Linked DNA regions of Homo sapiens: region 2 is linked to region 1. Evidence: fine-mapped expression QTL. A gene starts in region 1. The other region holds a variant in brackets. All regions are shown on one strand. Distances are between the middles of the regions. Region 1 holds the start of TLK1 (tousled like kinase 1). Region 2 overlaps LOC105373737 (a long non-coding RNA gene).

Region 1 (16,406 bases):
TTTGTATTTTTAGTAGAGACAGGGTTTCACCGTGTTAGCCAGGATGGTCTCGATCTCCTGACCTCGTGATCCGCCCGCCTCAGCCTCCCAAAGTGCTGGGATTACAGGCGTGAGCCACCGCGCCCAGCCATGTGTATCTTTAAGTAAATGAAATAAGTATCTTTAAGTAAATGAAATAAGTAACAGAGTAGTATACAAAGTTGAACTAAACTACATATTTACACAGATGTTTAAAAGAAATCGGCAAGGAAAAGGGAAATTTTATATTTTTTATGAGGCAAATATACAGTATCAAAAAAGGAAAAAAGTAAAACATGTCTCTGGTCTTAGGAGACAGGATGAGTATGATTAGCCTCACACAAACCCCTCTGACCTTCACCAGAGGAACTACATTCATCCTCAGATAGGAAGCACTTACCTAAGTGTCCAGTGGGGAATCATGAAGTCACACAACTTATCATATTAACAGCAAGAATTTAAACCTAGTAGTTTATTTACTCCAGCTAATTAGTTTTCAAGGAAAAGCACAAATTTATGAGTATAACCAATTCTTAACAATCCACATAGATGAAGAGGAAAAAATATTTTAAGTCATCCCCCCAAAATACTTATATTTGGCTAATGAATCTATGTAGAATATAATCACTTTTATTTAAATACAGGTTAAATTGCCTTCTTGAAATTCATTAAATTTCAGACCTAATGATGAAGCCACATTGGAAAAATTTAATTCAAGTTTGACAACCTACCACCTGGATCTGCTCTGCTCTGCATATCTTTCCACTCCATGACTGATAAATTCCTATCAATCCATTCAAATCCTGCCTCTCAATTAGGTTTGCTATATAATACATGCTACCAAAGGTTTTGTTATTGTTGTTGTTGTTGTTGTTGTTAGCAATAAAAGAATTAAAACTAAGTATTTTTTTAAAATACTTTTTTACAGATTAGCTAGACTGCACATCCTCTTCCCCTTGCCCATACTGAATACTATTAACAGAGTCAAAGATCTGCCACTAAAGCATTATAATTTAGTTTAAAGCCTTGTCCATCAGGTTATAAAGCCTCCACAATAAATAGACTGCTCCGATACTGACAGTGGGAAGTTTTTTGTTCAAATTCTAGTATTTACTTGTTATGGCTCCAGTGGGTTTATGAGGCCAAAATATCAAGATAAATGGAATTACAAATTAGATTATCTAACATGGAAATAAAATTTTTCATTGATGTATCTCTAACATTTTCCATGAATGGACAAAACTTATCTTAAAAAAATGAAGTGTAGGATTTGCACAGCTGGTACAGCTTTCTAAATTGGGTTGTTTGGTTGGGGTTTTTGTATTTTTTTAAATCTTATCTTCACACGTGTATAAAAACTCATGCAAAAAAAAGTTAACAAAAGTTTAGAAGTAAAATGAATAAGCCTGGAAGTCTGATTAGTAAGTTAAAATCTGCTTAGGAAAAACTACTAAAATACTAAAAACCAAATTTTCATATTTTAGGCAATATATCCTAGTGATTAAAATACACCAACTTGGTTCAAATCCCCATCATGTACTACTCTAGGTCACACTGGTAAGTCACTTTACTTCTCTGTGCTTCAGTTTTCTCATCTGAAGATGGGAATAACAACTGTATGTAACTCAGAGTTATGAGATATAAGAATTAACATGTGCGAACACAATAAACTTTAGCTATTACTGTTACTGTTATCCATATCACCCTCTAAAATATAGTTCACTTAAGAATTACTAAAATAAGCATCTTCCTGGGTCTGAAATATGTGCATACCATGATATATAGAGAGATGATGTATGTGAAACAGTCCTTTGACAAAACTTTTAGTTGAGTGCCAACTCTGTAGAGGATGTCCTCCTGTGCACTGAAAATACGAAAATGAACAAAATATAGTCTCTGAATTCAAGACCTTTCTGTCTAGTAGACAATATAAATAAAACTATAATAAAAGTAGCATGATGCAGATGCTATGGAAACAGACAATCCTGTGAGACACTAAACAACACAGGCACTTAACTAGGGGCAGACACAGGGGTCCCAGATAAAATAAACTCCAGCAATATTTTCTGAGGAACAATCACCTACTTACTTCACTTCCGGGTATCACACTGTTATTTACGCAATTTATATTATTAATATATTAATAAGTGTTTTACAAAAAACAAGACTACCTATCACACTACTTACCATGCTCATAAACTTAAATACCCTTTGGTATTAATGAAGATGTTTTCTTTTTTCTTTTTTGAGACAGGGTGTCACTGTGTTGCCCAGGCTGGAGTGCAGTGGCATGATCATAGCTCACTGCATCAACTGCAGTCTTGAACTGCTGGGATCAAGGTGGGATCCTCCCACCTCAGCCTCCCCAGTAGCTAGGACTACCGACATATGCCACCATACCCAGCTAACTTTTTTTTTTTTTTGAGACAGGATCAGGCTAGTCTCAAACTCCTGGACTCAAGCAATCCTCTTGCCTTGGTCTCCCAAAGCTGGGATTACAGGCCTGAGACATAGCACCTCGCCTGATGATATTCTCTTAAAAAAACAAAATATAACCTTGCAAAGGTTATACTGCCTCTTCAAGAAACATTTCTTTCACCAATAAATAAAAGCTACAAACTTTCCCCTAATAAATTATATTACGACTAATGTCACAGGAATGACAATATTTTTGAGCTGGAAGAGACCTTTGAGAGCCTCTAATCCAATGCTCTCATTTTACAGATGAAAAGAGGCTGTAAAGTATAATGGAAAAAAAAAACCAACCTGAGAGTCAGAAAACTGAATTTTGGGCCCAACTGTCTTACAGTGAAAGCCTGTGCAAATTATCTGCTTCCTCATCTGTAAAATGAGAGGTTTGTACTAGATTGCTTCCAAGATCCGGTTCAGCTCTGTAATTCTTAGTTTATGGAACTGAAGCAGAGATAAGCAACTTGCCCAAGGTCACACAGCTAGTTAATAGCAAAGTAAAGACTATCCTCAGATCCCAACTACAATCACTTTCTCCCCTATACCATACTGCTTCTACTACTTCATAACAATATTCCTGTAATTTATTTTAAGATTCTTGAAAATTATTAACAAGCATGAAGGAGTTTATGAAACTACATGACTGATTTCTACAGCTCTTCTATAGGAAATGAGCTTTAAATCCAAATGCAACAAGTACATGAGGTCTCAAGCTGGGTATTATTACTTACTACACTTATTAATATTAAATTGACCCCAAGAAAGTTATGAGAATTTATGCTTAAATTCCCACCACCTAAAAATCCAACTCACAGAAGAGATTATGTGCCATGCAAAATTAAAATATGAATTGTTATAAGTAATGATACATATTATAGGTATAATTCTAGGAATAAGATGAGAATTTAAATTCTTCATTTTATGTTCTAGTTATACTTAATATGCATTTTAAATTCAAAAGAGATCAATTTAAACACTTTTCTTTCTTCTTCCCTCTTTTCAGACTCTCTAGCTTTAAAAACATTAGAATAACTTAAGCATATTACTTCTGAAATCACGTAAACAATTACAAATAAAAGACTATATAAACTATGCTCATAATTTCTCTTACAAAATTGAAAATCAGCCCCCATAGTATTCTAAAATTCTGTGCTGAAATATATTACAACTCTACTAAACTGTATCATAAACAGCATTTGGTTCTCTAAAATGTCTTAAGCTTATTATATTTCACAGGGAATTTAGCAAGATTTCATGAAGACTGATCTTGCTGACACAAGAAAAGACAGAAAAATCCTCAGAGGAAAAGCACAATAAAAATGCAAAATAGTAATAAAGTCAACAACAACAGTAGTTTCATACTACTGACTTGCAAGAACATTCAAAAACGTTAATGAATATATATAAGTATAGTTTAACTATATTTAGGGATTTTTAAAAAATCACAGAATGTTTACATTTTTAAATTGGATGAAGCCTTAAGTCACTAATCCAATAGCACTCATCGTAAGAATCTACAGAATTTATCTCCACCTCCCCAAAAAATATGTCCCTGTAGTCCACTTTAAATTCTCAAAACTAACTACTTCTTTCCATTGTTGTTAGCTGTTGCGAGTTCCATTGTTGCTCCACTGTTCCACTGTTCCAAGTCTAGTTGTCATACAGTTCTTACATTCTGGTAAAAAATTAGACTGACCTCAATGTCTTCCTAATTTTCACCCGTTGGTCTGCCTTCTAAAGCAGGAGAATGGATCTATTCTCCCTCCTATTTATTAAAATTAACAGGTTTTTAAATCCTATTTACTGAAATCCAAGTTTCTTAAATACCTGGAGACAGCTATCACGTCTCCCAACCGTTAGTCTCTTCTTTAAATGTATCTTCCATAGACTTCCTGTAGGTCCTAGAGACATTTTTGGAATACAATATGCTTTCACATTGTCAGTAACTTAAAAAACAAAAAACAAAAAACTGCCACTTGTTGAATTTTGATGTAATACCAAAGAAGAATACTCACTCTTTCCTTTTCCAACCATATATCTACATGAAGCTGGATTCTCTTCACATATCTCAACCAAAACATCATAACAGACTGAAGGCAGACAAAAAATCCAGCTGTCTTCTCCAAGTAAGCCAGAAATCAAGGTGATTTGCAAAAATATAAAACAATGCCACTGGTCTAGTTTCTTTGGTTTTAGGACATATTTATTCTTCATAAAAAATTCTATTTACAACACAGTTTAAATTAATAAATATATTTGAAATTGTCATTTAATTTCTAAAAGAGCAAATATTAGTAGATATAATCTACATAAACCTAAATCTCTTGGGGTCCTCAATAATTGTTAAGAGAGTAAAGAGGCCCTGAGGCCAAAAGGCTAAAGCATAGTCTATTTCTCATAAGATTTTCAAACCTCCGTTCTGGTTTCTCTCTTTTATCTCTCTCCTCTAATATGTAAATGTGCCATTGTAAAGGAGACATCTGTCACATATCTATTCATGAGCTAGAATCCTTAAACACATAACCCTGTCCTCCTCCAGCTAGTGATTTCAAAAAATTAAAGGCCTACAGGGCCATCTGGTACACCTTCGTTTTTAACATCTCATTACTAAATCATCTGAAGTCAATTACTTTAATTCTTCTAAGGAATGCAGTCTTTAAATATGGAAACAGAGGAAGTTTACAGTTTAATCGAACTATCATGCCATCTTTTTTTTGAGAAAGTATCTCACTCTGTCACCCAGGCTGGAATGCAATGACGCTATCTAGGCTTACCGCAGCCTCCACCTCCCAGGCTCAAGCAATCCTCCCAACTCAGCCTCCTGAACCATGCCCAGCTAATTTTTCTATTTTTTGTAGAGACAGGGTTTCACCATGTTGTCCAGGCTGGTCTTGAACTCCTGAGCTCAAGCAATCCACCTGCCTAGGCCTCCCAAAGTGCTGGGATTACAGGCTTGAGCCACCACTCCTGGCCCATACAATCTTTTTGACCAAGCTTTCACTATTTACAAAAAAGTAAAGCAAATTATTTATAATTGGCAGGTTGGAGCAGGAAAGAAAATGCAAGTGTTCTATATAATCAATCATCTGATTCTCAGCAATAACCCATTCAAAAGTACCCATGTACTGATATGCAAAAAAACCCAACTACTTATCTAGCCAATATGACACTAGGTTCCTAGACTTCAACAAAGCAAAACTGGCCTTTACTTGAAAACCTTTTTAACTCGTCACTCCCTTAATCACAGGATTATAGAAGACAAAATGGGATGGAGATTATAGGTTTAAAAGATTCAACAGAAAATCTAGAGCTACATCGCTGAACTCCTCTAACAGAACCACAAGACTGACAAGCGAAAAGCTTTGGGACCCGAGGGAAAGAAATCTATACTATATTTATCACATAATTTCCTAAATTCTAATAGATTCCCAAATCTTATAGAGCTGTATTTTATTTGTGATAAAACTATGTGAATATGATAATGGTAATAAGGTAAAAAGAAACAAAACTACAACATACAGCATCAAAAATAATCAGATCATAATCTTAGGTTTGTGGTTTCAAATGTCAAAACTTCAAAATAAGTAACTTTTACAGATGCTTATGGCATATTTTTAAAAATAACCCATTTTCAAAGTTAAGTCTGCCTAAAAGGAGTTCATCACATAGAATATTTATGTAAGTTCACATACATGTGTATCTCTTTTAAGTTTCAATTATTCTATTACTATATGTTAAACTGACTCAATTTTTCAAGAAACAAAGTTAGTTTTCACCGTGATACATACAATACATTCAAGTTCCATTAATATTAACGGTTCTTACTAGCAGTAACTAGCAGTTAAAAAGCTTTCTAAAACTTCATCAATTTATATAATGTACTAACATGTATACCTGGAAAAGGTGCTAAACACTTAAAATAAAAACTGAGATTTCGCTCAATAGAAATCATCTCCATTTTGACACTCAGGGCTTCATATTCCTGTTAGCGTTAGTGAAATCTGAGAACACATCGCCAAGCTTCAAAATGAATATAACCCTAGAGAGGATTAATAGTTTCAACTTGCATGCTGGTTGGTCAAAAAGAAATATCCCCCTGTAGCTATACAGGTACTCGGTGTGAAGTGTAACTTTCACAAAAGCCTGTCCTATGATTTCATGAATTAACAGAAACTCACTACTTTAGGTTACATAAAAACCCACTGTAATCTAAACTGCCGGAAAAAATTATGGTTATTTGGAAGTTCAAGCTAAATGATTCCAACCCCTCCAAATTTTCAAACATCAGGAAAAGTGCAGAATGTTTTTAAGTTGAAGTAACCTCAGAAACTCACAATCTAGATGTTTTGTCTCCCAAATTCCCAATACTGATAACAGATATCAAGAGATAATTCAACACTATGTCCTCAGTATCCAGTTCACGGCCTGGCTCACAGTAATGGCTCAATAAATATTCGAGAAACGAATGAATGAATGAATGAATGAATGATGATATAGCCTTAAACAAGAAACAATAAAATGGTCTTTTTAAACTCATAACACTAACATTAAACATCTTAATGAAACTACAAACAAAAGTAAAAGCATGCTAAAAGCAAGCATCAACTTCTCTATGAAATACATTTTAAACCGTTCATTTAAAAATTTTCAAGTGCAAAAGAATCACCAGATATACTAAATTTCTAGTCATTTAATAAATAAACTTCTATATTCTAACAATGAAAGCTCAGCGTTGGGATAAGATGAAAGGGGGAAACGTCTGTCAATGTATTCCGCATGTTTAATGGATCCCATAAATCAAAGCTTTCCGTGAATTTTCTAGAGCATATTCATGCCAATCTTTAAGCCTATTGTCACTTTCACACATGCTCACAGGAACAAAATGACAAAGAATGCTATGCCTGAACCACTGGATTCAGGGCACAAAACACTTGATTAACACTTGTCAAGGCTCTGACTAGCAAATATCGACAGATATTTTCAAAATAAAGTACTCGCACCGATTCCTACATAAATCGAAGCTCTTGATTTCTTTAAAACATTCACTAGACGGTTGAACTTCCAGACATTTGAAAATGTGCCTATCTCCTCGTGTGCGACAACTAGGAGTGAACAGCCCGTCTACCAATTGCGGATGAATACCGCTAAGCTTTTTCCAGACTAAAGAGCGTTAAAAGACATTCCATGCACATTTATTCATTCCCCATAAATGTGTTTTCTCCCAAATTTCATTTTATGTTGTATACTTAGATACAGCAAGTTGAAATTTTAGTCAAAAGCACGCCGGTGCCTTACAAGCTGTGTAACTGCTACATCTGGTGGCAGCCCACTTGCTTGCAAGAAGCCAGAAAACTTAGAAAACAATTGTAACCGATTTGGTGCGTGTTTGCAATAACCTTTACGCAGATATTTCCCACAAAACCCACGACCCTGTCACAGAAGAACAGTAGCCTACTTGCAGCAGAGAATATAACGCACAAACACGCAGGAAGCAACGGCGAAGGAGAGAAAGTTGCAACCATCTGGAGGGGCGGTTTTAAAAGCCTGCCCACGAGTCAGTCTGTCGTTTAAATTGCTCTAGGGGGCCACACAGGGGATCAAAGTCTGCCCAGATAATTTCAGCGTCTCTCCCCAAAGGAGAAACCCAGCAAGCGAGGGGCATCCTCCAGGTCCCGGGCAGCAAAGCTCGCAAAGTGGGGACCGCCTCTATGGGAGGAGTGCGCGGGAGAAGGGGAGGGGGCTCGAGGACGAAGGCTCCAGCGGGAGGGAAAACCCACCAGAGACCGGAGGCCAGGAGGTTAAGAGTACTGAGTGTACTGGCAAATGGAGCAGAAAGGGGCTCGCGTCTGGGGGGAGGCTTCCCACCCTCGCAGGACTGGCTCCCAGGAACCCCAGGCGAGTCTATGCGCCTCGCCCCGTCCCCACCAGCGCGCACCCCCTCGTCCGTCTCCTCCGCCACCCGCGAACCACCATCCACAGCCAGGGCACTACCTCCCCAGAGCCGGGGAGCCGGGCGGCCTCGCGTCCACCTCGCCACCATCCCCCACCCCAGGGTCTGGCGGAGAAGCCCCGGGGCGGGGGGGGCGGGGGGGGGGCGCGGGGGTCCGCGGCGCGGGAGAGGAGGCCCGCGAGCGGGCGCGGGCGCGGCGGTGCTTACCTTCCCTGGGCCTCCCGGATGGCGGCGTGTGATTCAGCAGGGACCTGGCCGCCGCCGCCGAGCCCGGGGTTGGAGACGTGGAGAGCTGGGACCAAGATGGCGGCCCCTCCAAACTTCCACTGCTACTTTGGACACTCATCAAGCTACTTTCTGGGAACCCGACTCCCCCCCTGCGACGGCAGCGGCGGCAACGGCACCGGCACCCGCCTCCGTCATGGCGGGGGCCGCGCTGAGGGCGAGCGAGAGAGCGAGGGCTGGGAGGGGAGAGTCAAGGGGATGGGGGAGGAAACCGAGAAGAGGGGAGGTGGGGAGGAAAGAGGTGAGGGAAGGAGAGGGGACAGGGAGGAGGGAAAGGGGGAGAAGCGAGGGAGCGAGCGGGCGCGCCAGAGGAGAGGAGGAGGAAAGGAGCGCGGCGGCGGAGGCGTCGAGGGGGTGCCAGCCGGGCCGGGGTCGGAGCGCGGGCGGAGCGCGGGCTGCGCCGGCCGAGGACACTTCCGCGGGCGGAACCTGCCGGCACCTCTGCAGTGCGTCGGCCCCCGGCGTCGCCCGGGAGGCGGCGGCGGCGGGCTGTGGGTGGCGGCTGAGGCGGTGGGGTAACCTCTGCATCAGTTACAGGCGGCGGCGGCGTCACGCGCCGCCTGTGCAAACACTATCGCGAGGCTCCTGCGCCTCCGGTAGCGGCGGCGGCGGCGGCGGCGGCAGCGGCGGCCGCGGGAGCAGGCTTGGGGGAGGGACCTGCCAGGGGCTGGGGGGTGGGGGCATGGGGAAGGAGCGAGCGCGCGAGGGAAGAGACTAGAGCGCCGGGGCGCCCCTGCCGCACCCGCGGATCGCCGCGCGGCGCGGGAGCCCGGGGTTGCCGGACTCGCGTGCGCGGGGGCAGCGTCCCCGCGCCGGCCGGAGGGAGGCGCGCCCCCGCCGCGCCGCTCGGGCTCCAGCGCCGCTGCCACCTGACTCCCCCTGTCTCCCGCGGAAGCGCGCCTCTCTCCTGACCCACACCCAACACGGGGAGAAATGCTGCTGCTCTCGCTCAGCTGCCGCTTCTCGGGAGTTCAATGTGATCGTTTCTCAAAATGGAACTGAAAAGTTGAGAGTTCCTTCTTTCTTGCCCCTCTGTACTGTGCAGAAAAACGTATGTGCGCCTCCCCGTCTGCAGAATGGGAATAATGACCGAATAAAAGAGCTATGAAAATAAACATGGGTAGTGGGAGAGTTGGGAAATAAAACTTTCTCGTGTTTTCTAAAAAAGAGTGAAGAATCTTTAATGAGGAAATTGAAAATTACCAGTTTTGTAGACTGTATGGTATAGCAATTCTTTGTTTTAAAACAGTAAGTGGAAAATCTAAATGAAAAATGTGATTACTGAATCACATATTTAGGAAAACTATACAGCGTTCATCTTGCAGAAGGTATGGTTTCTAGAAACTTATAATTTGTTTCTAGTGTCTCCGCTGAGTCCCGACTACAAAAATCCCAAAATAAATAACAGCATTTGCTAAAATTTATAGATAGAGTGTAGCTTTCTACAGACCCACACAAGTATACTCACACCAGGGATTGGGCTTCTTGTACATAAAAGAGCACTCTAGTTCAGGAAAAGTACAACAAGGTTATTTCTCTCTTTAGAAAACCAAATTGAATAGAGCACTAAAAAGATTATGATATAGCGCTACTGCACAGACAAGAGGAAATGGCATGATTACCAGGGGGACAAAAATGTCGTTTCTATTTTTTATTTTTATGACTTCGCATTTCTCATAGTAATGTTTTGTTCAGATAAACTATCATACTAGAAAAGAACCTTGATTGTCAGTTATCTCCAGAAGTAATTGTAGTTGCCTTGTGCTTTAGATACTTCAGTGAGTTTTTAGTCTTGTCTGCTTTTCAAACTTAAGAGGGACATCTCACAAACAACTTTATTGAGGTATAATTGACAAAATAAACTGCACATATTTAAAGTGTACAATTATTGGCCAGGTGCGGTGGCTCACGCCTGTAACCCCAGCACTTTGGGAGGCCGAGGTGGGCGGATCACGAGGTCAGGAGTTTGAGACCAGCCTGGCCAACATGGTGAAACCCCATCTCTACTTAAAATACAAAAATTAGCCGGGTGTAGCGGCACGCGCCTGAAGTCCCAGCTACTCGGGAGGCTGAGGCAGGAGAATCGCTTGAACCCGGGAGGCAGAAGTTGCGGTAAGCCTAGATCGCAACGTTGCACTCCAGCCTGGGCGACAGAGCGAGACTCCTAGACTCTGTCTCAAAAAAATAAAAATAAAGTGTACAATTTGATAAGTTTTGATGTGTATACCTCCCTGAAACCACTTCTACAAGGAAGATGGTGAATGTATCTATCACCCTCCAAAGTTTCCTCTTTGTGGTTCCTCCTCCACACTACTTCCATTCTCTCCAACCACAGATCTTTCTGTCATATGGGTAGCTTTCCATTTCATAGAATTTTAGATAAATGCAGGCCATACAGTCAATTTGTACTCTTGTCTGGCTTTGGTTTTGTTTTTTGTTTTTTGTTTTTGAGACAGAGTCTTACTCTGTTTTGCCCAGGCTGGAGTGCCATCTCGGCTCACTGCAGCCTCCGCCTCCCGGGTTCAAATGATTCTCCTGCCTCAACCTCCTGAGTAGCTGGAATTACAGGCACGTGCCACTACATCCAGCTAACTTTGTATTTTTAGTAGAGATGGGGTTTCACCATGTTGGCCAGGCTGGTCTCAATCTCCTGACCTCAGGTGATCCGCCCACCTTGGCCTCCCAAAGTGCTGGGATTACAGGCCTGAGCCACCGTGCCAGGCCTTGTCTGGCTTCTTTCACTCGACATTATTTTTTTGAGAGATTCGTCCACATTGTTGCATTATCAATAGTTTGTTTTTATTTTTAAGTAGTATTACACTGAATGAGTGTACCACACTTGTTTATCCATTAAACTATTGATGGACATTTGCATTGTTTTCACTTTTTGGCTGTTACGAATAATGCTGCTAAGAACATTCATGTACAAGTCTTTCTGTGGACATAGGCTTTCCTTTCCCTTGGATACATACCCAGGATCTTGCCATTCGATTTTTATACCTAAATACATGCACTATAAGAGGAACAGAGTTTCTGTAATGACATGTTGATAAATGTATGCTCTTTCTGTATTTTTAAGAGTAAGCTTAGTCAGCAGATTGCGGTGAAAAGAACATGGGACAGGAAGGAAGTTAAGAGACCTGAGTATTAGTCTCAGCAGGTAACTTGATTCAATTTCCTCATCTACGAGAAAGAGGTTAGAGTCACTGAGTGATTTTTAAAGCTCCTACCAATTCTGAGACTGTACAGAGCTCAGTTCCTCTCAAAAATGGTAAACAAAGCCCAACCAAAAAGGTTTGATGATGGTAGGTTATCTTTCTCCCAACCTTCTCCAGAGCTTCAAGTTTTTAAGTTATCCTTATGCCAATTCATAGTACTTTTTTTTTTTTTAATTGTCACCCAGGCTGGAGTGCAGTGGTGCAATCTTGGCTCACTGCAACCTCTGCTTCCCAGATTCAAGGAAGTCTCATGCCTCAGCCTCCTGAGTAGCTGGGACTGCAGATGCCTATCACAATGCCCGGCTAATTTTTTGTATTTTAGTAGAGATGGGGTTTCACCATGTTGCCCAGGGTGGTCTCAAACTCCTGAGCTCAGGCAGTACACCTGCCTTGGCCTCTTAAAGTGCTAGGGTTACAGGCATGAGCCACCACGTCCACCCTAACTCATGTTATATTTAATGCAGATTGGCTATGTTTATTTTTAATGATAACTAGAGGATTACAGCATATACATGATCAACTTACTTTAGTTATATTTTTGTTGTGGATACTTCCTTAGAAGGACAATTAAATGTTTGATTCCTGTCTTCATGTGGTTTTTGATAAGACAGCACTCACCAACCTTTAAAAAAAAGGCTTTTACTGGCAATGGGGAGTTATTTAAACAAACTGCAGCTTAGCCTGAAAATGGAATGTCATGCCATTATTTAAAATCATGTCTTCAAAGAATACCAGAGAAGATAACATTTTCACACTATAGTAAGTGAAAAAATGGATATGATCTGGATTTATTCCTAAGTATGCATCAAAAACACTGGAAGTACTCAGGAGGCCAAGGTGGGAGGATCACTTGAACACAAGAGTTCAAGACTAGCCTGGGCGACATGATGAGACCCCATCTCTTAAAAAGAAAAAAAACTGGAAGGATGTGCCCCAAAAAGTTAATAATAACTAGCCTTGGGCTGTGAGATCACATAGTTATTATTTCTTTATGTATGCTTTTCCAAATTTTGTAAAACAAATCATGTATTTCTTTTTATATTCAGAAAAAGTTCAATAAATACGTTTTAAGTAATTGAAGTAATTGAAGCATAAAGAAGGCCTCTGGACATAAGTTGTGCAAATACATAATTTTATAAAATGATTATGTCAAATAAATGAAAACTTTTAAATGGCAAGGAGAAGCTCCTCCACACCTTGAAATTTGCTAGTATATGGGCATTCAAAAAATGTCCGATAAAAAAATAGATCAAGACTGGGCACGGTGCCTCACGCCTGTAATCCCAGCACTTTGGGAGGTTAAGGCAGGAGGATCACTTGAGCCTAGGAGTTCTAGACTAGCCTGGGCAACAGAGTGAGACCCCACCTCTATCTAAAAAAAAGAAAAAGATTAGATGGCTAGAGTGATAGATTACACAATAGGAAAAAATATAGAAAAGTCAGAAGAGTTCAGATTCAGACAGAAAGAGACACGTGCCACTCTGTAGGGAAGAAGAAATCTCAAGAGCAAGAAGAGATCATTGGAAGCTTTCTGGCAATCTTCCATGGAGGAATATTCCCAGAGGGAAAGCCAGCTTGAGAACACAGAAATGAACTGAGCAAGTAAAAGGTAGTAAACCTGCCTAGAAAGAATCAGGAAGAGACTAGAGAGAACGTTCTGAGTGCTCCATGAGGACAGGGCCTTAAGCCTCTAGTACAGACCAAGGGCTCTGTCAATGTTGTGGAATTAATGAATGATGACGATCAATGAGCTGGGTTTCAGGTGATAGGGCAATGCAGGAGAAGTCTTCAAGGGTCTCCTGATGGAAGGTCAGATGCAAAAGGTGAAGGTCTGAGCCCCGATCTATAGGATGATCATAATTTATAACTATGTTTAATAGACTATTTTCTATTTCTATACCATAGTAAAAATATTTACAAAGCATCCAATATTATAGACATACTAAAATGCATTTTATACTCTTAACTTCTAAATTCAAGGGAAAAAATTAATGTCTGAGCCACCTAAGCCCCTTTCCCCCAAACCAACAAGAAATTAGCCCAGAGGCTGGGGGCTGTGGCTCACGCCTGTAATCCCAGCATTTTGGGAGGCCGAGGCGGGTGGATCACAAGGTCAGGAGTTCGAGACCAGCCTGACCAACATGGTGAAGCCCCATCTCTACTAAAAATACAAAAATTAGCCAGGCATGGTGGCGCACACCTGTAATCCCAGCTACTCAGGAGGCTGAGGCAGGAGAATTGCTTGAACCCAGGAGGCGGAGGTTGCAGTGAGCCGAGATTGCACCACTGCACTCCAGCCTGGGCAACAGAGGGAGACCCCATCTCAAAAAAAAGAAATGAGTCCGGAGACTGGATGAGGTATACTTTCTGAGTACTCCCATACAGTGGGATACTGGAGCCTGTTCATAATGTCCTGGGAGAAGATTATGTACATGGCTTCCCAACTCCACATTCAGTAATGTTACATGTTACAATTGTAGCTTGAAGTCAGCCATGGTGAGAGTAGTTATAACTCCTAGGTCAGCAAAAGCTACAAGTTAGAGCTGCTTCTCCCCATCAGAGCCAATTATTAAGCATTCACCAGCACACCACTGCTCCCATCGTACATTTGTCATTGCTGTACTGTTCTCTGTTCTCTATTTCCCCCTCTTGGCTGAAAGCCTAGGGAGAGCAAGGACCCTTCTCTGTAATGGTTACAGTTGTGTTAATACCCAACATCTAGCACCTGCCTGGCATACAGTTGTGGAGCCAACCAACTACCTACACAGCTGGTTAATAAGCACTGGAGTCCCCTGAGCTAACCTGCTCATAAACATCTGGGCTGGCCATCTAGCAGGGGAAGAATAGGCCAAATGCCCCACCACCCCTTCACACTCATCCTTCATTGCCCAATGTTTGTGGTTTGATAAAGTTCACTGACCTTGTTAGGGTTTTCAGATTAAACTATGAATATTGTGTAGGCCATATTTATCCTAAAATGTTTTTTATTGATTTGAAATTCAAATTATCTGAGCATCCTGCATTTTAATTTGCTAAATCTGGCAACCCAAGCCCTTTTGAAGTAAGCAAAAAGATATTTCGTAAGGTAGTATCTGTGAAAGACGAAGATTCTCTGACCTGGCAGTTCCGTTCCAAAGAATGTATCCTAGAGGAATTCTTGCTGCTATGCACCAGGAGATAAGAACAAGAATGTCCGCGGCACTACTGTTTGTAGTAGTCAAAACCTGGAAATTACCCAAATGTCCGTCAACAAGAGAATGGATAAATTAGAGATATGTATATTTGTACAGTGGGATACTACACAACAATTAAAATGCTCACAAATATAATGCTCATTAAAAAGAGCAAGTTACAGAAGAACAAAGTCAGTTTGATTCCTTCTCAAATATTCAAAATCATTCAAAACTAAATCATATATTGTTCAGGAATACATTAAACTACAAGGAAAAAAATGGAAATGAGAAGCCAAGATCAGAGTGGTTACCTCCTTCAAGGAAAAGGGCACATGTGATCATGGGAACTCAGAGGGACTTCAAAAACACTGCTAAAAGCACCACTTGTTAAGCTGGGTGGGAGTACGGAGGTATGTTTGTCTTATTCTTTCTCTTTAAACTACATGTATATATTAGATCTACTCTTACATGTATGAATTATTACATTACAAATGTTGAAATGAGGAGTATTGGGCCTTCTTCCTTCTTATCAGAGTGAATTGAAATGTCAACAAGGCCTCCTCTGCCTGGACTCACCTCCAAATTTTTGTTTCCTTCTTTGTCCAAAGGTATGAATATAGATCAGAGCTCTTAAGATGCCTACCCTGCAATCTCAACACGCCCCCTCAATAGTTTTTTTGATTAGTTGCTTAGACAAATGGCTCCATTACATTAGATTATGAAGAATTCTCATTTCATTAAGTTGGTTCTATCTTCATTGCACAATTCACAAAACCACTGCTTGAAAGTTTTGGTTTCCAAATCCTGAAGAGATAGTTCCAAGCTTTTGTATATAATAGGCTAGATTACACTTCCTCTGCTCCCTCCAGTGATGGAAATGTTTTCTCTCAGATTTGTCAATCCATTTGAAAAAAAGAAAACCCTTGGTCCATACACAACAAAAACTGGAATTACTAGATTCTCAAACAAAAACTGGAATTACTAGATTTATTTCACCTGAGGTTAAATAATTGTAACCAACTTCAGAACAATAATATCCCCTCCCCCAAAGTGCACTAGAAGCTATCCTCCAAGGACATGGTATTATGAAATGTTTACAAAAACAAAGTACAACAAGCAAACAGTGCTCATATTACAAATTTTGAATCAATAGTGTACCTCTTAACAAAGCAGGCAACTTTGAAAAGTAATTTAAAAATATATAAATTATAATTTATAATTATAATCTAGTGTTACACTTTACTTATCCTAAATTTTACTGATTAAACCAAAATATAAATTTATCACATTAAG
Region 2 (16,406 bases), 130 kb after region 1:
GAAGAGTAAACTAGTTAGAGAGCCAGCCTGTGGTTGCTTTTTTCTTTCTCTATGGCCTTGATGCTCTAGATGTGATCACTGAGTTATACCTGTTTATTCCAATAACAGAGGAGTAAAGAAGAGCTCTCTAAATTTTTCCTTGGTGCACTCCAAATTTATAGTTGTATCTCACCTCTCAGAATTTGGGTCCAAATTTGGGTGAAAAGTCAATGCTCAAGATCACACAACTAATAAGAAGTAGATCTGGGATTTGAACTTATGTCTATCTGGTGCCACACTTTTTTTTTTTTTTTTTGAGATGGAGTCTCACTCTGTCGCCCAGGCTGGAGTACAGTGGCACGATCTTGGCTCACTGCAACCTCTGCCTCCCGTGGTTAAGCGATTCTCCTGCCTCAGCCTCCTGGGTAGCTGGGACTACCACCAGGCGACATCATGCCCTGCTAATGTTTGTATTTTTAGTATAGATGGGGTTTCACCATGTTGGCCAGGATGGTCTCAAACTCCTGACCTCAGGTGATCCACCCCGCCTTGGCTTCACAAAGTGCTGGGATTACAAGCCTGAGCCACCACTCCCAGCCTGGCACCACACTTTACTGCTTAACCTATATCTTTTTTTTTTCTTTTTGAGATGGAGTCTTGCTCTGTCACCAGGCTGGAGTACAGTGGAGTGATCTCAGCTCACTGCAACCTCCACCTCCCAGGTTCCAGAGATTCTCCTGCCTCAGCCACCTGAGTAGCTGGGATTACAGGCGCCTGCCACCATGCCCAGCTGATTTTTGTATTTTTAGTAGAGACGGGGTTTCACCAAGTTGGCCAGGATGGTCTGGATCTCTTGACCTCGTGATCTGCCCACCTCCACCTTCCAAAGTGCTGGGATTACAGGCGTGAGCCACCGCACCCAGCTTAACCTACATCTTATGACACTTTCCAAATGAAAGAAGAAAAACTTCAAGAGGACCACTTTATCTATCAAAACCCAGTAGTGGGAGATAGAGAGGATCAGTTTATTTTCCACTTCTCACTCCTAAATCTCATCAGCACAAAACAAATAAAGATCTAGCATGGCATCAGTGCAAAGATCAGCTCCTGACTCTAAAACAGAGCACAGAGCAGAAGGAAACTGTTTGCTTCATAAAACCAAGAATGGGTTATAAGTGAGGCCCCAAGTGCACCATGAATTGGGCTAGAAATCTGAATCCCAGTGTCATTATTTCAGGGAAACAGAGCTTCTCAGATGAGCAACTACTCTGGGTGAATGCTTGGGAAGCAACTGGTAACCTGGTGCTCTGAGAGCCTTGGGGTTTGGCCAGCTCCTATAGCATGAATGGTCTGTGCTGTCAATTCCTATCTCTCTGTCATCTGTATCCCTGCCTATCTAGTAGTGATCTCTTTCACCTGTGTTGCTCCTGCTTAAAAACTAGAATGCCACAACCTCTTCAAAGCCTGCCCCTACCCTCTGGGGACAGTGAACCATTCTCTCCTCTACTGAGCTCACTGGCTCTGGGCATTTTCCTCCATGGCATTCCTTTTCGCTGTGGATTGATGCTTTCTGTCCTCTCACACCCCAATGAACACCTTGAGGTCAAAGCATACAACCCTTTTTAGAAAAAAATTCTTTTAGGATTGATGGAAATGCATTGAGATGATGGAGGTAAAATGATGGACAGTGCCTGGTGCACAATAGGTGCTCAATAACTGTTCTTCCACTTTATTGGTTCTCCCACTTAGTATTCCCAGCACTCAGTGTGATTCCTCAAAGGCCATGGTTACTAAACAGATTTTTCGTGACTAAATAAATAAGTAAATAAATGAACACATTCTACCTCCTGCCTCAAGGGCAGGTGTCATGTCTCCTGCTGAGCTCCAGGAATATCTCCTTATTTTCATTTATATCTCTGAAATATGTGTAACAACACTGGTCACATGGCTGGGTATAGTAAATAACTTAATTGATTTTCTTTTGTTGCAAAAGATGTTGGTAGATTGAAATTTTACCTCTAAGGCATCTATAGGAAAGATGTGTTCTCCTATCTGTTTCATTTTGAGTAGAGTGAGATTGCCAGGGGTCTTATATACACAGCTTTAGGTCTCTCTAAGAAAACTTTAGCTTAACCCACTTGCCAATTAGAGGGTTGTTTTCCTTTCTTGATTTCTTTCTAAACAGTCAATAACTAATACAAACTCTAGAAGAATAAGCTCTCCAAAAGTGAGGACCCTGGTGAAATCCAAACATTTACTGCTATGATCCTAAGTAAGGGCAGGGAAGTCTCATTTATTTCCATATCCCTAGTGCCAGCCTAGTATTTAATGCATAGTAGAGACTCAAAAAATATTTCTTTGATAAATGAAGTTGCTTTTAAGGCAGTAAAGAGAAGTAAATTTATTAAATCTGCAGTGTAATTTTGTGATTATCTATGGCTTTAGAGTCACACAGTACAGAGATGAAAAAATAATAATTTGCCTATCTGGATAGAATCGTACAATTGAAAAAAGTGTTTTATCATGTATCGTATAGTATTATTTACATACCATTCATTGAGCCTCTAGTGTATAATAGGTGCTTTAAATATCATTGTATCTAATCCTGACAATGCATCTTGAAATGTTATTATAATGTCCATTTTACAGGTGGAAAAAACAAGCTTAGAGGGGCTAAATGATTTGCCCAAGGCCACAAACTAGTATTGGTCCCCACATTAAAATGTGAGCTTCATGTAGGCAGCATCTGGCACCAAGAATAGCGCCTGGCATATAGTAGATGCTAAATAAAGATTTGTTGAAGAATGAACCAGATCTGGCTGACTCCAAAGCCGTCATTCTTTTCATGACGTTATTTGCTACTCTGTAAACTGTCTTTTGAAGTATCAGAGCAAGTAGCACACTTCTTTACATCCATGAGGACCTGAGGTCCAGGGAAATGAAGTTAATTTTTCTACATTGCACAAGAGTGGCTGGGCCAGGAGTGGAACTCAAGTTTTCTGATAGTATTATTTTCTTTTTTCTAGTCTGCAGGGAGACCATGAGGCAGAGATAGGTTGTGGGCCACTTCCTTTCCTCAGGAAAGTTCAGGGGTCTGGCCTGGGGAGGAACATTTCAGAAGGAGTTATATCCAAAACTTTCTACCTAGAAAAGTGATTCAATGCTGGAGGAAAGTTATTTCCCCTGATAGAAGGATGGACTACTGGGGGATACTTTCTTATTCACAACACCAGAATCTGATGTTTTGAGACAGGGCTAGTCCTGTGGTGAAGTCTAACCAGGCAGCTGAAACCTGATAGTGGCTACTTCATCACACAATTTTATTTCTCCTAATCATATCACTTAAAATGATCACAGGCCTTTAACTTTTTAAGGAAGAAATTGGTGTTAAATTATACATCTTAAAGTCATTATGGTTTTTTTGGCCAAATAAACCCTTTCTTCTGTTTTTTTCATTGCATTTTTAATATCAAAAAAATGGGGGCCGGGCGTGGTGGCTCATGCCTGTAATCCCAACACTCTGGGAGGCTGAGGCGGGTGGATCACCTGATGTCAGGAGTTCAAGACCAGCCTGGCCAACATGGTGAAACTCCATCTCTACTAAAAATATAAAAATTAGCTGGGCTTGGTGGCAGGCGCCTGTAATCTCAGCTCTTCAGGAGGCTGAGGCAGGAGAATCACCTAGGAGGTGGAGGTTGCAGTGAGCTGAGATCGCACCATTGCACTCCAGCCTGGGCAACAAGAGCAAAACTCCATCTCAAAAAAAAAAAAAAAAAAGAAAAAGAAAATGGCTATGAACATCCTACTGTTAGTAGTAGTTTGTAGCTATGGCAACTCATATATCTATTTGTTAAGTACCCAACTAGTTGTGTCTCTATGCTAGGTGTACAGTTAAATAAGTAAGTAAATATATACATAAATAAATAACTACAAATTTACAATATTCCATACAGCATTAAGGAGACCACATAAAATTGAACAAACATATACCAGGCCCAGAACCAAATTAACCTACTATCTGAGATCATGTGCAATGAAGTCATTATAGCTACACAGGACAAGAGACTAGACCATCTAAAAGTCATTTCTTCCTTGCTTTCAAGTTCTCCATCCTTCCTTTCTTTTTCCATTTGTTTGTTTTTAATCTTTGAGTATTTTGCCTGTTAATCTTTTCAAATCATCAAAGTCTGAGTGAAGATAAACCAGAGCCTTTTCTAGTTACACCCACCTCAGGAATCCCCAAACCTAAACTCCCAGCAATAGCTTGCAGAAAAGCCATACAAACCATTCCTGGTTGGGAAAGAAGTCATCCTCATCAGCAGCTCATATGCTGACAAAGCCCAGCAAAGATTACATGTGGCCATAATAACTGCATGGATATGCTTCTCACAGCTGACATGTCTCTGCCTTCCTGGATTCTCACACTGTGTCCAGTACATGCCCTGGCAAAACTCTCTCCAAAGACACCAGAGTACTGGAGCTAGGTTTTCCTTGTCTCTTGTTCCTCCCCTCATCTCCACACTTAATAACTCCACATTGCACAGTGGAACACTTGGCAAGGCAAGAAAGAAGTCAAGCCTGGATGCTAGGGGCAGCTCCTGTCATGAGAAGGATCCATGACTGTCTCTTGCCCTTTTCTCTCCTCCTCAGCACACTTCTGCTTTCCCCTAATTTTTCCATCTTATACATATTTTATTGTTTTCTAAATATAGACATCCTAAAATCTCCGTGGAAAGACATCTATTGAAACCAGAGTGATAGCAAGTAATGTGCCCAGCAGGCAAATCGCAAAACAAATAGAGGGTGCACTCAGCACTTTTTTCTTCTGCTGCACAAAAGAACCCAAATAAGGCTCCTGGAACCATGGGTTGAGTAATCAAGTCCTTTTCCTGGATGTACAACAGCACAGCTTTGGGAGATAACTAATTCAGCTCGTGTAATTGTACACCCGTCTAGAAGAGGAAAAGGAAGCACAAAAAGAGAGAAAAGGAGAACAGGCCAAACTTTTAATGGCTTGCCCTCCTTCTGCACCTGCCATGACTTGCAAGCAGAATATTGTGTCCCAGCTGGCCACTTGTCCTGAATCTGAGACCCCAAGATACCCATTGCCCTTGGAATTAAAGAATTATAAATGGAATTTTTGCACCTGCAAATTTAAAAAAGAAAAAAAGATAGTGAGAAAACTTGGAAAGGTCCCTTGAAACATTTCTATCACCCTTGTCAGGCTGTGTTTACTGCCCCTGGTGAATGCTAACCAGACACATGAGTAAGGACTCTTGAGGACCATTTAGCTGTTTTACTGAAATTAATTTTGGTTCCTACAGATTAACCATAAAGACATGCACTGGCTGCAGGTGTGCCAAAGCCAGCATTCGGAGAAAATCCAGCAAATTTTGTGGAGATAGTTAATGACTCCTGCAAAATTAATTTAAATTGAAATAGGATAAGAACATATGGAAAGAATCAATCACTCCTCATTTTGAATGAATGTTATTTTAGCATGCATAGACTTCTGATATAATTTTCCTCCTTTCCCTTAAGGGTCAAGAAGTACTCAAACACTAAGTCTTTTCGCAAAAGAGAAGATTTTTTTTTTTTCTCCAAGAAAGAGGAGAAACGTGTTTCATAAATCTTTTTACTTGTCTAATGCGGAAATTTACATCTGGGGCTCCATAGACACTGCTCAAAGCCCTCTCAGAAAACACAACTCTGCTCTTGGGGTAATTATGCTTTCCTAGTGTCTGGACAGTGGCTCTGGCTTCCATTTAGAATAAGATCTGGGCCCACTTGTTATGCATGTCCACATTAACTGGACAAGTCATAGAATTTAAATGTGATATGAGGCGAAAACACAGAGGCAATAGCAATAGAATAGGATTAGAAAAGTCTTTTTCAAGTGTTTGGAAGGCAATTACTATGTTAAAATCCCACAGCCACGTGTTCACACTCTTGTACCCCCATTCCATGTGCAAAGCCATCTCCAGAGTTCTCTCTCCAGGGGAGTGAAACAGCGGCAGGCACACCCATCGTAAGCGGGGGCTCCCCCAGCATTAGTGCCACCCATGACGTTTCTTCTCCAAGACCTTCTTCTAATCCCATTTATAGTTTATTTACCCAAGTTATTTACACTTTGTTCCAGAAAATAGTTAAGACAACATTAATAATATAAATCCTCATCCACATCAATCACAGATATCAACTGTCTAGTCTTTACTTATTCTTCATTCAACAAATATAGATTATGGTTTTGTGCCGTATCAGGTATTATTTTAGGCACAGGGCAGGAGAGAATATAAAGAAGAAGAAAAACTAGTCCCCTTATTCTTGAGGACGATATAATTTAGGGGTCAAATGGATGCATAAACTTCTAAATAAAAACATAGCAACATTGTTCATGCAAAAATCATCTACTAATATTTTTCTCTCTTTTCACTTTGCATTTATTTTCACATATATTTATTGAAAACCTATTATGTGTCAGGCAGTATGCTAAGAATTGGGGATATAACTCTGGATACAAAAATCCAAAGAAGAATTTCAAAACAACATTCCACAATTCCAGGGACAGCAGGAAAGAAGTCACAAGACATCTATTTGTAATGTTTGTGCCAATGGAGATGGAGCAGAGAACTGAGAAATTTTTTTTAAAAAGTCATTTCTATGTGGGTTGGGAAGAAATCCTAAATTTTGTGGAAAGCAAGGAAATAGGGAGTGGTAAGGAACTAATGACTGCCTAGTTCAGCTTTCCTTAGGCTAATGTTACAATTAATCCCTGTTCCCTGAGCATTCATCATTCTGGGGAGTGGGGGGCAGATGGTGGAGGATTAAATCCAGATTCCAGCAGTTGGGGGGCCAAGCATTAATTGTATAAAATTCACAAAAGAGGTCACCTGGAATTGGCTGTATAAATAATTAAAAAGTAGGGAAAAAGGGGAACATGAGATAGCCAGAAAAGAAAGTCTTTGAGAGAAAAGGAAAGCTGGAGGAAGATACAATAAAAGACAAAATGAGACAGTAACAGGTCAAAAGGGTAGTATCTTTCCTCTGGTCCTGCTGACTAGAATCCTGGTTCAAATCCTTGGCCAACTAATTGGTGTAATCATTAGTTTATGTGCTCCATCTGCCTAGCATCCCTAGAGGACTGTGACCGTGTTCTGGTCATCCGTGTCTCCAAATCTCAGCACAGTGTCTGGCCCAGAGTTGGCCTTCAGTAAGTGCTGCTTAAATAGATTTTTTTTAAAAAAAGTGAATCATGTGAAAGAGAAGATAGAAATAAGTTAAACACACACGTATGAGGAGCTCTTCAAAAAAATTCATGGAAAATGTGTATTATCAAAAAACTATGCAGAGAATTCAAAATGTTTGCACTAAAATAAACTCATACTAATTTGTTATGGCATGTCTGAACAGGATCTAGTTTGGGGCACTAAGAAGGATAAGACATCAGTCTGAGAAGAGCCCCCATCAGAGCAACATGAATTCTGCTATTAATAAAATTGAAGCAAGAACTAATGTTAAGGCTGGGCACAGTGGCTCACATATGTAAACCCAGCACTTTGGGAGGCTGAGGTGGGCGGATCACCTGAGGTCAGGAGATCCAGACCAGCCTGGCCAACATGGCGAAACCCCGTCTCTACTAAAAATACAAAAATTAGTAGGACATGGTGGCACACACCTGTAATCCCAGGTACTCGGGAGGCTGAGGCAGGAGAATTGCTTGAACCCAGGAGGTGGAGGTCACAGTGTGCTGAGATAGCGCTACTGTGCTCCTGCTTGGGACAGAGCAAGACTCTGTCTAAAAAAAAAAAAACAAAAAAAAAACCAACATCAAATTTATGGTTTGTGTAGAAAAATAGTGAAATCATTGATGCTTTACAAAAAGTTTATGGAAACAATGTCCCAAAGAGATCAGTAGGGGTCTTTCTATGTTGCCCAAGCTGGTCTTGAACTCCTGGACACAAGCAATACTTCTGCCCCGGCCTCCCAAAGTGCTGGGATTACAGGGTGAGCCACCGTGCCCAGCCCTGAAATTCTTTCTGTTTCATAATCTTAAAAAGTCTTTAGCTGAGCCTGGTGTCTTACACCTGTAATTCCAACACTTTGGGATGCTGAGGGGGAAGGATTGCTTAAGGCCAGGAGTTCGAGACCAGCCTGAGCAACATAGTGAGACCTCATTTCTACTACAAATTTAACAAATTAGCTGGGTGTGGCAGCATGCACCTGTACTCCTAACTACTTGAGAGGCTGAGGCAGGAGGACTGCTTGAGCCCAGAAGTTCAAGGTTGCAGTAAGCTATGATCTCACCACTGCACTCCAGCCTGGCAACAGAGTAAGACCCTGCTTCTAAAAATAAAAATTAAAAATATCCTTTACAGTGCATCCATTTTTCTTCAGTTGACAATGCAAAAAAGATTGCCCTGGCCGAGTGCAGTGGTTCACGCCTGTAATCCCAGCACTTTGGGAGGCTGAGGCAGGTGGATCACTTGAGGCCAGGAGTTCAAGACCAGCCTGGTCAACATGGTAAACCCTGTCTCTACTAAAAATACAAAAAAAAAAAAAAAAAAAAAAATTAGCCAGGCATGGTGGTGCACACCGGTAATCCCAGCTACTTGGGAGGCTGAGGCAGAAGAACTGCTTAAACACGTGAGGTGGAGGTTGGAGTGAGCGGAGACCATGCCACTGCACTCCAGCCTGGGTGACAGAGTGAGACTCCATTTCAAAAGAAAAAAAAAAAAGACTGCCTTGACGTGGTTACATTCCCAGGACCCTACGTTCTTTAGGAAAAGACTAAATGGCTGGTATCATTGTTTACAAAAGTGTCTTCGGCTTGATGAAGCTTATGTTGAAAAATAAAGCTTATATTTTTCATTTTTATCTTTTAATTTAATAATCTTCCATGAACTTTTTGAAGTCCCTTCTATTCTGTACACAGGAGGCTTCAGTTACATCCCCTAAGTTTTGGTATGTTGTGTCTTCATTTTTCCTCTTTTCAAAGTACTTTTTGCCTCTCAAATTATTTTCTAATTTCTCTTTTGATTTCTTCTTTGTTCTTTGACCCATGGGTTATTTAGGAGTATATTGTTTAATTTCCACACATTGTGTTTCCCAGCATTTCCACAGGGAAATGACAATGTTAAACTGGGAGGCCCAAGAAGAACACCATTTGGAGAGGACAGGACTAGATTAGAATGAGCAAAAGGTTTCCTGGTGACCTCTGCTAATACACCTCATCTACATATACCCACCCTCCAGCTCTCCACCCAGAGAACACAGACGTGCTCAGCAGATACTTTTTTTTTTTTTTGAGATGGAGTCTTACTCTGTTGGCTGGAGTGCAGTGGCATGATCTCAGCTCACTGCAACCTCCACCTCCCAAGCAATTCTCCTGCCTCAGCCTCCCAAGTAGCTGGGGCTACAGGTGTGCACCACCAAGCCTGACTAATTTTTTTGTATTTTTAGTAGAGAGGGGGTTTCACCATGTTGGCCAGGCTGGTCTTGAACTCCTGACCTCAGGTGATCCACCTGCCTTGCCCTCCCAAAGTGCTGGGATTATAGGCATGAGCCACTGCATCTGGCCCAGCAAATACATATTCTTCCAACTCATGGATGAGAAATCGATGTCCACGCATGGTCTGACACAAGGTACCATGTAGCGTGTAGGAGAATTGGAATTCCAGGCAGGTGATAGGGCAAGATGGTTAGGAGGATAGGTTCAAATCTTCATTCTGCCATTTTTGGGCTGGGTGATCTTTGGAAAGGTACTTAATTTCTCTAGGTCTCAACTCATTTGTAAATTGGGATAATAGTACCTACCTCATAAGATTATTGTAATAGTAAAAATAATTCACATAACCCAGCACCGTGGGAAGCTTTCAAAAAATGTTAGCCTGGTCAGGCACAGCGGCTCA[C/T]ACCTGTAATCCCAGCACTTTGAGAGACCAAGGTGGGCAGATCACAAGGTCAGGAGTTCAAGACCAGCCTGGCCAACATAATGAAACCCCATCTCTACTAAAAATACAAAAAATTAGCCAGGCGTGGTGGTGGGTGCCTGTAATCCCAGCTACTCAGGAGGCTGAGGCAGGAGAATGGCTTGAACCTGGGAGGCGGAGGTTGCAGTGAGTGGAGATCACACCACTGCACTCCAGCCTGGGCGACAGAGCGAGATTCCATCTCAAAAAAAAAAAAAAAAAAAGAAAAGAAAAAAAAAATCCGGTGTTTTTGTTAGCACTTCGTGACCTGGAGCTGGAAGCCTTTAATATTAACATGCTGCTGTACTCTTGGGCCCCCACTGATTCCTGGGTTTGAATCCTGGCTCTCTCATATAATAGCTTAGGAGACCTTGACCAGGCCACTTACCCTCTCTGCATCTCGGTGTCCTTGTCTTTCAAAGGGGCCCTCACAAGGTGATTGTGAGTAGATGAATGAATATGGGTAAAGCTCAAATAGTCCCTGACCCATGCTAAGTAGAGACCCCATCCCTACACTGATGAAATTTAAATTCTTGCTAGGGAAACAGGCGAAAACCAATAAAGAGGTAATTATGTAAAACAGTTACCAATTGTGATAAGTGCTATGAAGGCTGAAATAAGGCTTAAAGAGAGAATGGGGAGGGGAACCTACTTAAGTGATTAGGTGGTCAGGGAAGCCTTTCCCAAGGAGGAAACATTTCAGCTAAAAGCTAAAGGATAAAAAGGATAAATAGAACTAAGGAACATCTTAATCTCAGCCTTACCAAGAGCTGAAGGAAATATCTTCAAGGCATAGGGAACATCAAATGCAAATAGCCAGAAATGCATTTCAGATTGAATTCCTACAGTATCCGCTATTGTAGAATTCCTTAACATGAATGTATCATTTTTACATAAACATGATAGCAAGTGAGATACATGATGAGACATGAACACGTGTCAAATACACATTCCTGAACATTGCTCAGCATTTAATTGACCTGTGCCCATGTGTTACAATGGTATACAAATGTGTGCAATTTTATATAAACGGACACGTGTAGACCTGAATTTTTCTAAAAGACTAATGCAGACCTAAAAATTAATTAGTGACACGTTTAAGATATTCAATTAATGGATAAGCAGAGACTGACTAGAAAAATTAAAAGAATAAAAAATGATGTTCAAATAAAAGCACAAAAGAGACAGGAGGAACTCTTGTTTTTAGGCTTGCACAAAAATTCACCTGGCAGCACAAGTTGACGTGTGACCTGTTTCCCATATGTTAAAAATTTTGATATATAACACGTTTGGATGTGCATGTTCCTGTGCTTTAGGGAAGTTCTTTTTTTTTTTTTTTTTTTTTTTGAGATGGAGTCTTCTTCTGTTGCCCAAGCTGGAACGCAGTGCTGCAATCTCAGCTCACTGCAACCTCTGCCTCCCAGGTTCAAGCAATTCTCCTGCCTCAGCCTCCCGAATAGCTGGGACTACAGGCATGTGCCACCATGCCCAGCTAATTTTTATATTTTAAGTAGAGATGGTGTTTCACCATGTTGGCCAGGTTGGTCTCAAACTCCTGACCTCAAGTGATCCATCTGCCTTGGCCTCCTAAAGTGCTGGGATTACAGATGTGAGCCACCGCGCCCATCCTCAAGGACAGTATTTTAATAGTTAGAAATATACATATTTAGAACAAGAAAGAAATGTCTGTGGAACCCCTAACATAATTTCACTAAACTCTTCAGTGTCACAGAACAGTTTGAAAAGCACTACTGCAAAATAATTCCAGATGGGAAAAAGTTAATTTTCCACCGTCCTCCATTCTCTCCTTAGTGACTAGTTTCGTTTCATTCATTCACTGAACAAATGTACTGAGCTCTGTGCTCATTACTCTTTATCCCATGCTCTCCTCCTGCCCTCACCTATTCTCCATTCTTCTCTGCCCAGGGTGGTGGGAGCGGTCCCCTAAGGGCTGCATCATCCAGGATCTCTGCCTTCCAGCTTCTGATTCCCTACAGCCAGTGGGAGCAAGGCATGGTTCTGGCAGTGACGGGAACTGGAGCTCCTGCTGGGTGCTCCTCTTAGGCACCTCCAGTGCTCACCAGCTCTAGTAACGGCTTTTCCTCTCCTTTGTAGGCTAACTGCTCCCCTCTTTTGCTAGTCTTTTGGTGCTTCAGCATCCTTTGTGGGTTTCCTTAACCTTGCCCACACTTCTGTAAACTGCCCCTTCATTAACATCTCTTCAAAATCCAAAATGAATGTATTTTCTTTTGCCTGCTAAGACCCTGACTCAAGCCTCTACTATGTTCTAGACCATCCCTGCCCAATAAAAGGATAACAGGAGCCATATATATACTTTTAAATTTTCTAGTAGCCATGAAAGACAGTAAAAAGATGCAGATAAAATTAATTTTAATAATATATCCTATTTAACACAATACATCCCAAACATTATCATTGTAACATGTAATCATTATAAAAATTTATTAGTGAGATAGTTTACATTCTCTCTCTCCCTTTTTTTTTTTTTTTTTTTTTTGAGACAGTCTCTGTCTGTCACCCAGGCTGGAGTGCAGTGGCGAGATCTCGGCTCACTGCAACCTCCGTCTCCTGAGTTCAAGTGGTTCTCCTGCCTCAGCCTCCTGAGTAGCTGGGATTACAGGTACCTGCCATCACAACTAGCTAATTTTTGTATTTTCAGTAGAGACGGGGTTTCCCCATGTTGGCTAGCATGGTCTCGAACTCCTGACCTCAGGTGATCTACCCGCCTCGGCCTCCCAAAGTGCTGGGATTATAGGCCTGAGGCAGCACGCCCGGCTGTCTCTCTCTTTTTTTTTTCGTTGAGACAGAGTCTCACTCTGTTGCCCAGGCTGGAGTGCAGTGGTGTGATCTCGGCCCACTGCAACCTCTGCATCTCAGGTTCAAGTGACTCTTGAGCCTCAGCCTCCCAAGTAACTGGGATTACAGGCATGCACCACTATGCCTGGCCAATTTTTTGTAGTTTTAGTAGACAGGGTTTTGCCATGTTGGCCAGGCTGGTCTTGAACTCCTGGCCTCAAGTGATCTGCCTGCCTCAGCCTCCCAAAATGCTGGGATTACAGGTATGAGCCACTGTACCCAGCCTACATTCTCTTATTCATACTAGGTTGACAAAACCTGATGTGTATTTTACACTCACAACAATCTCAGTTGGAATTTATCACATTTCAACTGCTCAATACCCACATGTAGCTGGCAGCTACCATACGGCACAATATAGTTCTGGATACTGATTTAGGGCTGGAGATAGATGCAAAATACAGTCCCTAACATCTTAGAGTTGATGGTCCAGTAAGAAAGATGGACACACAAACCATTAGAAAATAATGCAGCAAATGCATAATTAATGCTGTGTACAAGATGCTGTGGGAATAGAGCTCTTTCCATCAATGGGGTTTACAGAGAGATAATAGATATTAACATTTGAGCAGATCCTGAATGATCAAGGATTCTGCCAAGAAAACAAGAGGGTGGAGAGGACAATGCAGGCAGACAGACATAATCTTCACCTTTCCATCTACCCTCGCTGTATCAGCTGTTCTCTGACTATGCTCCTGAGACAGGCACCCTGCACACCAAGGGTGCACTTGGATCTCGCTAGTTACTGTGGTCCAGGTTTGGATGGACCTCTGCAGTCTTAGCACAGGCTCGAGGAGTATAAGTTTTCAAAGGAAACACAACTAGGAAATAAGGGTGAGATATGAATGCGGGGAGAATGCCTATAAACAGACATACTGAGAGAGCCTGGAGCCATTTTCCTAAGGTAATGGAACTCTGGCCACTGACAGGCTTCAGTGGCTCAGGTTCCTGGGCACAAAGCCTAACCTTATTTTCCTCATCTAATCTGTCTCCTTTGCTATTCAGAAAGCATTGTCACTGGCCAGGTATTAAAGCTCATTGTTTCTAACCTTTGGCAACATTTTGGTTGTTATTGTTTTTCATCTTTTCCCCTTATATGAGCCCATTTCTCTAGTAGTCCCAAGGATTTGAGGACCAGCACTGACCTCCCTCTAGATTGTCTCTCTCACATGAAAATCCTACTATTTTTAGTCAAATATAGCTCTCTTTTCCCGTTTCAAAACTCAGACGCCCTATAGAATAGCTCAAAAAGTTCTTATTTTGGCCAGGCATGGTGGCTCATGCCTATAATGCCAGCACTTGGGGAGGACAAGGTGGGAGGATGGCTTGAGGACAGGACTTTGAGAGCAGCCTGGGCCACATAAGGAGACCCTGTCTCTACAAAAAATTTAAAAAGTAGCCAGACGTGGTGGTATGCACCTGTAGTCCCAGCTGCTTGGGAGGTTAAAGTGGAAGGATTGCCTGAGCCCAGGAGGTTGAGGCTGCAGTGAGCCATGATCATGCCACTGCACTTTACCCTGGGTGACGGAGCAAGACCCTCTCTCAGAACAAACAAACAAACAAACAAAAAAGAAGTTATTTTTGTCTCAGAGGCAATGTTTGTTCTCTACTCTCTGAAGGGAGGTTATAACTTAAGTGACCCAAGGCCAAGGAATGGTCACGTATTTTCCGCTCTAACTTACCTTCTCAGCATACTTTGTTAGATATTTTTGGAAGATTCACCTCACTCTCTTAAATCCTCCAAACCTCAGTTTTCTAACATAAAAGTACATCACACACATGAGAGCAACAAAATAGAGCTGCTCACCTTTCAAGCCTAGGGCCTCCTGTGAGGTTCTCTGATCCACTTTGGGAAGCCATCAAGTTCCCTGCAGACCTCTTTGCGTAACTCCATGATACTTAATAGCTGGTGAGGATTTTTAAGGATACCCAAGCAGTAATGGGAGAGGAAAGGAGGATAACTATTCTTAGATACTAAAAAAGAAGTATGCACTTAACTCAGACAAACATTCTGGCGCCTTTCTGTATGAGCAGAATCCTGATTTCCAGGAGGTTGGAGAGCCATGGCTAACTGTTTACATCCTTGGTCCGCAGCAGTCAGATGGTATACACTGTAGCCTTATTTTCCTTGTCTCCTTCTTAAATCAACCATAAATCATGTTCAATGCCAAGCTTTCTGCAAAAATTCCCTGTGGTTTCTTTTAGTCTCTCACTCCAACTATCACATTGTGATTCCCATTGGCAATAATGTCGGCATCTGTTCTCCATACCAGCACTATTTGCAAATACTTTGAGACCGTGCCCTTGATTACTACTCAAAAGTTCAACTTCTGTTTTCTCAGAGCTAAAACACATACTGTATTATCCAGTTTAAATAGTTTCCAATCCTCATCTGGGCAGCAGGCTTCATCAGCTCCTCCCATTACTCATATTGTTTTTTTTTTAATGCTTTTAATTCTTTTCTTTCAATTGACTCATGTAGAGATGATTAACTTTGGTCTTGAACATTGCTAACCTTCCCACTCTGAGCTGTGCTTCATTCCCTCCTTAAGGATCTCTTCCATCCATGATGTCGTGGATTCTAAGAGGTTCTTTTACTCCCCAAAGCAGTTTATTAATACCACCTTTTTGTTTTTCTTCTCCATGGTCTAAATTAGATCTCAGAAAATAAATAAATAAATAAATAAATAAATAAATAAATAAATAAATAGGATCTCAGTATGCTAGGAATTAGGCAACAATTATATATAAAGAATCAGTTACGGCCAGGCGCGGTGGCTCATGCCTGTAATCCTGGCACTTTGGGAGGCCGAGGCGAACGGATCATGAGGTCAGAAAATCGAGACCATCCTGGCCAACAAGGTGAAACCCTATCTCTACTAAAATACAAAAAATTAGCTGGGCGTGGTGGTGCATGCCTGTAGTCCCAGCTACTCAGGAGGCTGAGGCAGGGGAATCGCTTGAACCCGGGAGGCAGCGGTTGCAGTGAGCCGAGATCGCGCCACTGTACTCCAGCCTGGCGACAAAACAAGACTCAGTCTCAACAACAACAACAAAATCAATTATTCTTAAAGAGAAATAATTTATATGGTTTACAATTTCTTTTATCTCTCTGGCTTAAAACATTTGTTTGTAATGTGCATGTGTGTATGTGCATGGTTTGGGTTTGGTTTTGGTTTTGTGAGTGTGTGTATGTATGTGGTTTGATTTTGCTTGTTTGTTATTTTTCTAAACGATTTGGTTGAACAGTTATTCAACAGAGATGACTGCACCATTCTGAGCACTGTCAGGCAGTCAGCATTTTTATGAGCTGCCCCTTTGGCATAGACTCTGTGTTTCTGGACTTGTGAGAAAATACATACTCGTACACTCATATGTGCATGTCTGAACATACACGCAAAACCAATACAGAAATTAAAACAACAGAGAAAGACACTTAGCCAAACCCAGCAGACCAAATGATTACATCTATGTTATATAAAGATTTGCCTTATAAGTTAATCAAAGATATTATGCATTTATACAAAGACCAGAGGAAATCATAAATTGTAATGAAAATCAGGAATGTTCTAATACAATTAGTAC

Evidence for each region.
Region 2: its variant is fine-mapped to the expression of TLK1 in whole blood (INTERVAL, PIP 0.97).

Annotation. Positions count from the first base shown.
Region 1 is chr2:171,151,646-171,168,051 of GRCh38, forward strand. TLK1 (tousled like kinase 1) reads right to left here and starts at 9,248. Exons shown (of 21, transcript NM_012290.5): 1 at 8,645-9,248. The coding sequence starts at 8,783. RefSeq lists silencers at 8,419-8,658, 8,929-9,648, 9,779-9,838 and an enhancer at 8,420-9,064.
Region 2 is chr2:171,282,967-171,299,372 of GRCh38, forward strand. The region is part of intron 1 of LOC105373737 (a long non-coding RNA gene); the gene reads right to left. Among named protein-coding and RNA genes, the nearest start is that of TLK1, 130 kb to the left of the region's middle. The variant C/T (reference allele first, on the strand shown) is at 9,888.